Linked DNA regions of Homo sapiens: region 2 is linked to region 1. A link means that fine-mapping ties the variant in region 1 to the expression of a gene that starts in the linked region. Tissue or cell type: fibroblasts. Region 1 holds a variant in brackets; the other region holds the start of a gene. All regions are shown on one strand. Distances are from middle to middle. Region 1 has its middle 33 kb from the start of SBSPON. Region 2 holds the start of SBSPON (somatomedin B and thrombospondin type 1 domain containing).

Evidence for each region. PIP is the estimated chance that this variant, and not a neighbour inherited with it, causes the effect.
Region 2: it holds the start of SBSPON, and the variant in region 1 is the best candidate, but not a certain one, in a credible set for the expression of SBSPON in fibroblasts (GENCORD, PIP 0.51).

The regions. Positions count from the first base shown.
Region 1 is chr8:73,123,813-73,129,189 of GRCh38, reverse strand. No RefSeq gene overlaps it. Among named protein-coding and RNA genes, the nearest start is that of SBSPON, 33 kb to the right of the region's middle. The variant T/AACAAGT (reference allele first, on the strand shown) is at 2,551.
Region 2 is chr8:73,090,752-73,096,128 of GRCh38, reverse strand. SBSPON (somatomedin B and thrombospondin type 1 domain containing) reads left to right here and starts at 2,957. Exons shown (of 5, transcript NM_153225.4): 1 at 2,957-3,275. The coding sequence starts at 3,062.

The DNA of each region.
Region 1 (5,377 bases):
GGAGCTGCATTCCAGGAGTACGTCCCATGAAACACCACATGAAAAAGTATTCTGTGGGTAGTTTGACAACTCTTGCTCTTTTGTTTACTGTGGCTATGCAGATCCTTTAATATCCTCTACTATGTTATGAATCTTCTAAAAGTAAGTCTAGTGTGCCTACTTAACACTCAAAAGTTTGAGTCTTATTTTACTTTTACAGGCATAACTTGGATTTATTGAAAGTTCAGTTCCAGACCACTGCAATAAAATGAACATCACAATAAACTGAGAGACATGAATTTTCTTGGCTTCTCAGTACATACACAAGTTAGGTTTACACTATACTGTAGCCTATTAAGTGTGCAATAGCATTATGTCTAAAAACAACCAACATACGTACCTTAGTTAAACATACTTTATTGCTAAAAAATGTTAACGATTATCTGAGCCTTCAGTGCATTGTAATCTCTTCACTGGTGGAGGGTCTTGCCTCAATGTTGATGGCTGCTGACTGATCAGGGTGGTGGTTGCTTAAGGTTGGGAGGCTGTGGCAATTTCTTCAATAAGACAAGAGTGAAGTTTGCTGCATTGATTGACTTTTCCTTTCATGAAAGATTTCTCTATAGCATGTGATGCTGTTTGATAGCATTTCCCCACAATAGAATTTCTTTCAAATTTGGAATTAATCCTCTCAAATTCTGATGCTGCTTTATCAAATAAGTTTATGTAATAGTCTAAATCCTGTGTTGTTATTTCAACAATGTTCATAACATCTTTATCAGAGGGCTCAGAAGGGAACAAGAAACATGTTATTGGAAGCTGGAGGACAGGGGATTCTTGTAATATAGTGGCAGAAAGCTGAGCAGAATTGTGTCCTGCAATTATGTGGAAAGCAGAGCTTCCAAGTGATGAAACTGAACACTAGGTTGAGACTTCCAAGAAAGGTCCTAAGACGTGGTCTGGTTTTGCTGCTTATAGTGAAGTGTGAGAGGAATGAGATAAATTGTGTGAAGAACAGTTAAACCAAAAGAATTCAAGACTTGATTATTTGGGGAATTCTCATTTTACCCAGATTGCAAAAGATGCTAAAATTAAGAGATTCACCATCAAAAAGCATGCTGTAGAGAAAAAGCTGAGATCATGGCTGGATCTGTTTGATAATACTCTGGAAAAATAAAACATTTCAGAAAAATGAAAAGTTCAAAGTCTTTAGTCACAAAAGAAAAAAAACACAAAAAACTTTTTTGTAAAGATTAAAGATGCACCTCACAGATCCCATTATCTCAGCAGAAACCAAAAATAGAGATGGGATTATCTAGGAAAGATCTTTGAAGGATCCTTTCATCAAATGGAGTAAATCCCTGTGATTTAACATGGGAGACTTACAAGGTTTCTGAGGATTTTTATACCTGCTGAAACACTTCCAGCTTGGACCGAAAAGGACAGAGTGCAAAATGAAAGAAGCCTGTTGGTCCCCTGAAATTCAGAACACAGACCAATAAAACTACTCAGCTGCCTTTTATGAAAAAGGAAGGATGGCTCAGGCAGCAGAGCAGTGAACTACAGAGGATTAGTTTTAGGTTTTAAAACCAAATGGAGTTTGCCTCACTGCAGTTTGAAATCACTTGATTGATGATTTCTTTTTTCTTCTATTTTCTCCTTTTTTGAACAGAAATGTCTATGTCATCCTATGCCTGTCCTGCCATTGTATTTTCAGAGAAGATAACCTGAACTAAAAAAAGATAACCTTTTTTTAGTTCACAAGTCTAGGTAGAGAGAAACTGTGCCCGAAGATCTGTTACACCCAGAGGCTGACCCATACCTTATTTAGATGATTTAGACAATGAGATTTGGCACTTTGAATTTGTGCTATAATGGGTTGAGACTCTGGGTGCACTGGGATAGGGTTAATGTATTTTGCATGTGGGGCAGACATGAATCTTTCAGTGCCAGAAGGTGGACTGTCCTAGGCAGAATAATGTGCAGCCACTCAAGATGCCCACACCCCAATACCTGGAACCTGTGAGTATGTTATGTGGCATGGTGAAAGAGAAGGTTGCAGATGTAACTAGGTTTGCTAATTAGCTCACTTAAGACGGGGAGATTAGTCTAGATGATCTCAGTAGGACCAGTTTATTTATATGAGTCTTTAAAAGTGGAAGAAGAATCAGAGGCTCAGAGATGGTGGGTGAAAGGGACTGGGCCCACTGTTGCTGGCTTTGGAAACAGGGGGAAGGGCCTTGAGTCCAGGAATGAAGGCAGCCTATGGAAACTGGAAAAGGTAAGGAAACAGATTCTCCTCTAGAGCCTTCAGAAAGGAACTCAGCCCTGATAACACCTTCATTTCAGCCCCGTGCAACCCTTGGCAGACTTCTGATCTGCAGGCTGGAGATAACACGTTAGTGTTGTTTTAAGCCACCATGTTTATTGTAATTTGTTACAGCAGTGATAGAAAATAAAATACATTTAGTGTCTATCAGAAACACTTGGAAGGCTTATTACAATATAGATTGTTTTCCCCAAGTTTGTGACTCAGTAGATCTTGGGCGGGGCCTGAAAATAGGCCTTTCT[T/AACAAGT]TCTCAGGAGAAACTGACGCTGCTGGACTGGGGACCACACTTGGAGAATCCCTGCTTTATCTCCTTTAAGGCCTAAACTGTGGCAGGTCACTCAGCTTCTGAAGTGTTCCATGTTATTTATTTAACAATACTTTGTATCCTTTGGCTTGAGAAATTTAAAAGTGAAAAGAGGACTTGAAGGGATGGGTGTTAGAAAGCAATTAGTACCCTAAGCGTGCACAGAGAAGTTTGTAAAAGTCATTCTTATTCCCTGTAGCACACAAATGGGGATGGGCTCATGTCAGAGAGATCAGCAGCGGCCCATTCAAGAATGTAATTAGAGATAACAGCATCTGAGTGTGTTATGTTTTCCATGGTATGGAGCTGGATCCAATGGTTCTCATCACTCAGCATGGCAGTAATCCTTGGCATGGAGCTAAATGGAACAGTGACTTCAGAATGACAACATTGATCTTGATTTTAAACTGAGCTCAGGAATTTTTGTGTTCTCAGGTTTCACTGCATGCCTGGTATTGCACAAATTCTTCAGGTTCTTTTGCTCTAAATAGGCCTTTTTAAGCTCAAAATCAGTTCTGTATGCTGAATGGACTCTCTGACTCAAGGCCAGGCACAACAGCAGGTTCACAATAGATTTTGTATTCTTGCTGGGCCTCCTCAACATCACTTTGCAAGTAGTAGCTTTGGAAGAATATACAATGGTACTCTGTATTATTTTTCAAAGCACATTCATGTCTTTCATCTCATCCTAGCTGTCACAGATATTAATGACAAAGCCAGGAAGAGAATCCAGGTTTCCTGGATCTTAGACTCATGTTCTATCTGCTTTGTGCTCCTGAAACACTTTTACGTCAGTCTCTAGATCAATGCCCAGAATGTTGTTCCATCTATAGGCGAAACATAGCCTGTGGGGTAGGGGGGGAGAAAGAAAGAGAGAAATAGAGAGAGACAGACAGAGATAGAGACAGGGAAGGAAAGAGAGAGAGAAACCGACAGAGACAGAGACAGAGGCAGAGAGAGGAAGAAAGAACAAAAAAGTGAAGAAGATGAAGGTAACCCCCAAACAGGGAAGGATAAGCAAAGGAGGAAAAGAGAAAGAAAGAAGAAAGAAAATAGACGCTGAACCCCCTAAAGGACCACTGGGAGCCATAACCTTCCATGTCCGTGAATAGGAATAATAATCTAGTTTCCTTGGGATGGTGACAAAAACACCATCATAACCCCGAGAGAAGCGGTGGGTGTCACAGTGATTAATTACAGATAACAGTTGTCACTTCCTTTTCCCTTGTCTCCTTGCCCTGCCCTTCAGTGATGGCTGAGCTTCTGTTGCCTCCTCCCCACTTTCTTCTCCCTCACTGCTGGGGTCTGAGAGAGCTGTGTAGAGAGGTTACCTGCCTGCAGGTCACCTTGTGCTGTTCACAGGCTGATCTCAGGGTCCTCATGGGGCAAAGTGAGGACTGGACAATGACACGGACATGCTGCCTATCGCTTGGCTCCAGTCCCATGCTGTTAGCATCACAGAGCACCCAGAGTGATTTCTGGAACAGAAACTGGACAAACAACCCTTGCCGTTCTTTTTAGGTTTCATCTTGACTACTATAATATTTAGATCATGAAACCTTTTGACAGTGAATGAGAGTCAGTGTAACACTGCTCAAAATGGTGAAATATTTTGAGAATCTAGAATGGAAACACAATATCCCTTATGTAAGTATGCTTCAACAACTGTCAGTATGACCGGGTTAGGGGATGGGGAGATGGCAAAGAGGAAATGCCTGTCAAATGTTAGAGGATGTGCTGGGTTTTGTGTTGACTCTTAGTATCCAGAACCATCTCACTTTGTTCAAGGATCTCTTTCTTATTCCTCATCTGTATTCTCTCATCCTATTCTCTTACCTACATAGGAGTTTCTTGAGTAGTCAGGATCCTGGCATAGCACCTGGCACACTGCAGGTGCTTAATGAATGAGTAGGGGGATACTGGAGACAGAGAGGCACTGCTTGTGGGAAGAGCTCAGGCAGAGATTGCTGGATCTGTCATTTGGCAGGGGTGTGGGAGTCATGCATCAGACAGATGGTTAGGCTCCATGATTCTACCATTCCTCCAAACCCTGAGAGTTCACAGTTCTTATGTATTTAGAAAAGTTCAGAAATGCCAATATCTGCATCTGAAAGTGTGATGGTTAATACCGAGTGTCAACTTGATTGGATTGAAGGATACAAAGTATTGTTCCTCAGTGTGTCTGTGAAGGTGTTGCCAAAGGAGATTAAAATTTGTGTTAGTGGATGGGGAAAGGCAGCTCCACCCTCAATCTGGGTGGGCACCATCTAATCAGCTGCCAGCATGGCCAGAATAAAAGCAGGTGGGATGCTATGAACAAGCCGTAAGCCTGCCATAAACAGGCCTTAAAGAAACTGGCCATAAACAGGATTTCTGCAGCAATGTGACATGTTCATGATGGCTATCATGCACACTGCTGAAAGTTGTTGGTTTACTGGAGCAGGGCAAGGAAAACCTGGCCCGCCTGGAGTGGAAAACTGCTCAAACCACAAACAATAGCAGGAGTGGCCTGTGCCTCAACAACATGCTTTTGCTGCAGATAATCAGCCAGAGCCTGTTTCTCTACTCCTCGCTAAGAATGCTTTGTTTCCCGTAAGGAAAGCTTTTAGCTAATCTATAATCTATAGAAACTATGCTTATCATTGGCTGTCAGTAAATATGTGGGTCAGACTCTGTTTGTGGCTTTCAGCTCTGAAGGCTGTCAGCTCCCTGATCCCACTCTGCACTCTATTTCTGTGTCTGTCTTTAATTCTTCTAGTGCTGCTGGGTT
Region 2 (5,377 bases), 33 kb after region 1:
GGATGCTAATATTTTCCTAACAATTATGCAGCACCAAATGAGATCATATATGTGGATGTTTTCTTAAATTACTATATTCTGGCCAGGTGTGATGGCTCACACCTGTGATTTCAGTGCTTTGGGAAGCCAAGACAAGTGAATCGCTTGAGACCAAGAGTTTGAGACCAGCCTGGGCAACACAGCAAGACCTAGTGTCTCCAAAAAATAATTAGCTGGGTGTGGCAGCATGTGCCTGTAGTCCTAGCTACTTGGGAGGCTGAGGTGGGAGGATCGCTTGAGTCCAGGAGTTTGATGCTGCAGTGAGCTATGATTGTGCCAGCGCACTCCAGCCTGGGTGACACAGCAAGACCCTGTCTCAAATAAATAAATAAATAAATTACTATGTTCTAGAATGATGAATAGGTAGATCTCCATTCTCTCCCCACTCTCAGCCCCCCACCCCACCCCCATAATTTTACCAATCCTGGACAGCTTCCAAAGACAACACTTCAGAAGAAAGTGTGTCTTCTAAGGTGCATTTTATTACTTCCTATAGTCATCCACCTGATCACTGGGATGATTTCTGCTCTCCAAACATCTCCAGGGCAAGGAAAACAAAGCCACTAATTGTTACAGTTGACTGCATCCAGTTTCCAGTAAGGATGTGAACTCCATTGCTTTAAATGTCAGGGTCCTCTGACTTTGCCCATTCCTGCAGGAACTGCTTCCTTTGCTACAGCCTGCTACGGGAGGCTTTTCTTCATATTTTCAAGACAGTACAAGCTTTAACTTGAGATTGTTTCTTTTAATGTTACTTACCAGAGACAAACTCCTTTTTATCTGTGCTGTTAAAGTAGTAATCATTTGTGGTTTTCGTTTCCTTTCTTTTCTTTTTTTTTTTTAAGCGACAAAATCTTTTTGCTTTCCCCTATTTTGCACACAACCAAAACTGCACTTGTCTTTGCTTGGTTTAGGCTTAAATTATGGAGTGGGAGTGGGGTGGACATTAGGACATTAATAGATATTTAGTTCCCACTCACATCGCCTCGTCTCTGTGGGCCTCTCACAACAATCTGAAAAGATTTAGTGTTCTATGTTTGAGTTGAGGGCACTGAGATTTGTCAGAAATCATAGGATCAGAACTAGACCCAGATTTTGTAATTCTGGAAGCTAAATCTCATGAGCACAGACCCCCTAACTTTTTGTTTTCGATTTCCAATTTTGGTTTTGTCTATAAGGAAAAGGGCTGGTGGGGGTGGGGAGCGGGCTGAAAAGAACGGTATTTGAGCAGGCATTTGGCATTATACTTTTAATTCTCTTAAACCAGACCTCCTCTTCTCCTTTCTGTTATCACTTCATTTCATGTTTTATTCCTGAAAGCGAACTTGTCGGCGGATCATTTTCCTTTACATCTTTCTGGAACTGTTCCAGATTCTTATGGCATTACAAAAAAAGTATCTGCCTAAAGGCGTTCTATAAAGCAGACAGCCTTAGAGAAGGTGTGGGTATAAATTACATGAATGAGTTAATACAAAACTGCTAATAAAATCTGTGACATGGGAAAAGGCAGAGGGTATAATTTGCTGCAGTTATTTAGTTCCAGCTACAAAAACTAAAGATACACACCCACACCCACACACACATATATATAAATATATATGTATATGTTATTTCTTTAGACTACAAAAGTAAGAGAGACTTACCTAAAGACGGAAAAAAAATCTCAACGTTGAGAATTTGTTTGTATAAGCTCACAAAGAAAAAACTTCTTTTTGACTTTAGAGTGTGTTTTTCTTGGAAGATGAAATAAGATTACAGTCTCCACTGGTCAAACTTTGTGGTTAGAGTTTATAAGATAAAATTCTTATAATGTATTAAATCTTCTTCATTTCACAATGTGTTTTGTATGGTTGATTACCGTATTGTTTCACTACTTTTGTAGTCAAGTTTTTCATTTCTACTTTTGTTAACTTTTCTCTCTGATGAATAAAGAAAATTCCTCTGTAAATCCTTATATGAGAAAGAAAGAAAGTCTATGAAATTAATTTGATTTCTTAGGTTCGCAGATGCAAAAAACGTTATATTCCTGGTTTCACATAAAAACCATATTAGGGTAAATGATTTAAGAACATAAAATGAAAATTCCAGCATAAATTTGGGTGAACAAAAAGAGTGGTGCAGAAAACGTAACACATTTGGAGAGAAAGGGAGAAGAAAATATATATATTAAAAGTTAGGCAAGCATTTTATTAAAGTGAAAGTTCTAAAATATCAGTACACAGAGTTTTTAGGGGGAGAAATTGGTTTATCAGAAAACAGAGCCCCGTTATTTTATTTATTCTTCCCACCATTCACAAATTGCCTCCTCGTGAAGCGAAGTGGCATTTTCCTGGGGCAGAAGAGTCCCATTATAAATGCAGCAGAAAGAAAGGATGCTTCTTTGGACTTATCTCCTAGCTTCTCTGCGGCCTGCGGGGACTGAGAGGGTGGGCGAGCTGGTGTCCACTTTGTATTTGAATGAGCTTTCCCGGGCGAAGGCGGGGTGGCCCGCGCAGAGTGCTGCTGAGACACGTTTGGTGCCCATCGAGTGCTCTTGGTCTCATGGCTTTAGAGTGAAAATGCCCGCTCGTTAATGTGTCCCCAGGCGTTAGAAGTACAGTTTAGAGCCAGGAAATGTGGCCTCCCCCGCCGGGCTCCTGGCTACGCCCCGGCACCCCACCCCGACCCCCGCCCCGCCAGCACCTGCTTTTCCGCTCCCGCGCCCCGGAGGTCCCCGGGCTGGAGCTGGGGCGCGAGCTGGCAGCGGGGAGTGGGTGGCGCCCGGACCGTCGATTGCGGGCCCGTCCCGGGAACTGCAGCGCCCTCCCCACCTGGGCAGGGCAGCCCCGCCACCCGCCCGGGCCTCGACGGGCGCGCCGCCAGGGCTGGGGAGGGGCGGCGCGGAGGGCGGGGGCCGGGCGCAGGGCAGGGCCCGGCTGTGCCTCGCCGGCCGCTCGGGCAGCTCCCGGGCCGCGGCCAGCCGAGGATCAGAGCGCTTGCCCCGGGGGTCTGTCGCGTCGCAGGCGCCGCCGGAGCCCTGGCCATGAGGACCCTGTGGATGGCGCTGTGCGCGCTGTCGCGGCTGTGGCCCGGGGCCCAGGCCGGCTGCGCCGAGGCCGGGCGCTGCTGTCCCGGCCGGGACCCCGCCTGCTTCGCCCGCGGCTGGAGGCTGGACAGGGTCTACGGGACGTGTTTCTGCGACCAAGCCTGTCGCTTCACCGGGGACTGCTGCTTCGACTACGACAGGGCGTGCCCAGGTGGGTGGTCAGGCCGAGAGTGGGGCGCCGGCCGTTAGCCTGCAACCAACGGGCACAGGGCAGGGCGCTGTGCCAAGGACCTCAGTCCCTGAGCCAGGTGTCCTCCAGACCCTTTATCCCCACCCATCCCCACCACCGCCATCCAGGTACGCCCGGCTCCGTTCATCCTAGGGTCTCCCAGTCCCCTGCTAGACATCGAAGTGTCCCCCCACCCCCAAGACAGACCAGAGCCCGGATGGAAGGGCTGGATCCCGCTGTTCTCCAGCGGGATGGAAGGGAGCCGAGAGACGAAATCTCCGACTCAGAAACTCCAGCTGGATAGGGCCACCTCTGGCCGGCAGAGATGGCACTGACAGATAAGGGGCATGCCCCTGGGCCAGGCTCCACCACCTTCATTCTGTCAACCCTCGGGGATCTTTGGGGCTGGTGAGGGGTGATGAGGGCAGGATTGTGTAATCTTCCCACTTTGTGCCAAGGGCGTGCTCTGGGAAGGTATTAATACTTTCTTCTGGAGAGCAAGGTCTTAAAAATCTGAAGATGTCCTCATCTCTGGACCCCAAAATGTAGAACAGCCTCTTTCTCCTAGGAGGTGTACAGTATGTTCTTGGAATTTAATTTTCTCTGTACAGCATGACAAGGATTTTATCTCGAGGTCCCTATTATGTTGTAATCTTGCTGGTTTTCCTTTAGGGTCAGTCTTTTTCAACTTTAAATTTCCCACAGTATCTCACAGTTCCTTGTCCCCGTAAGGGCTCAATAAAAGCTGGTTTAATTGAATTAAAAGATAAAGGAACAAATGATGAGTACAGCCTTGAGGAACAAGGTGTACCTGAGAGAAGCCAGCCATGGAAGTGGAAGTCGCCCTGCTCCTGTTAATCACATCATCCCCAAAGCCACACAGATATTAGGGTTCGAGCTGAAGGATCCCGACATGTGGGAGCCTCAGCATTTTCTGGGGCTATGCCATTCCCTGGGCAACCGGATACCCAGTGGCGGGGAGCACCCTCCTGCCTCTGTGCTGTTTGAAGAGGGCTTCAACCCGTGGCCAGGCCCGATGCTGAAAGAACACAGTTGAAAGCATTAAGATTTTTTGACCCTGGTTGAAAGCTAATGATTTACCTGTGAATATTGATATTATTTTTGATAAAGCTTTTTGATAAGCTTCTTTCCCTTTCTGGCTCTAAGTTCAGAGTATTTTACTACTAAAGTAAGATGGAAGAGTCAGCTATTTAGGAAATGCAGTGCCCTTGAGCCAGGTAACTCCAGCCCCTCCTCACAGCATCCTAAACTGTCGGCCTCATTTCCCTGCATAACTCAAGCAAAGCCTCTCTCTCATGAGGGGCTTGCATACATTTTAAAGGTAATTATGGAATTCCTGTGACCCAGCTAATGTCCCCTGATCTGTGGTAAGCGCAGGGATAGAGAAGTGACAAAGATGCAGTCTCTGCTCTCTAGGACTTTCTACTCTAGCTGGGCAACCTGTGCAAGCTCCTGTTCGACACACTTAGCACTGAAATAGTTGATCCAGGAGCTGACCTGGAAGGAAGCACTTAAAAGACCCAAGGAATTCAAGGAAGACTCACCTGAGGAAGTAATGGGCGAGCCTGGGCCTGGAGAATGAGGAAGAGGCCTGCTGGAGGAGAGAGAGGCAGGCTGTAGGAGGGAAGCCCAATGTCACAGTCCAGTAGTTACTGTGGGCATCACCTGCTTGTGCCAGGCCCTGTGCTAGGCCCTGAGGCCAAAATGGTGAACAGGACAGATGCTGGAGGCAGCCAGATCTGGAGAGATTCAGGCCCGTAAGAGGGATGAGGAGAGACAAGGAGAATGTCTTGAGAAGAACTTGCTTTCTAGTGAGACCTGACAGCGCTCCCAGGAATTGGAAAACCCTGTCTTTATTTGGTCAAAAAGAAATTGCTTATTTTCAGTCTAGGCGGTAGAATAGTGAGACAAAGAGCCTATGGTTTTGGAGTGGGGATTTAGTGGGTAAGTATGGAAGCGGTGACATGGCCTGCTGTCTTGTGAAGCTCTCAGAAATCACTGTAAGTGTGTGCCCCAGAGAAGAGCTGTGAGTGGGGGAAAAGGAGATGGTGTCAGATTGAATT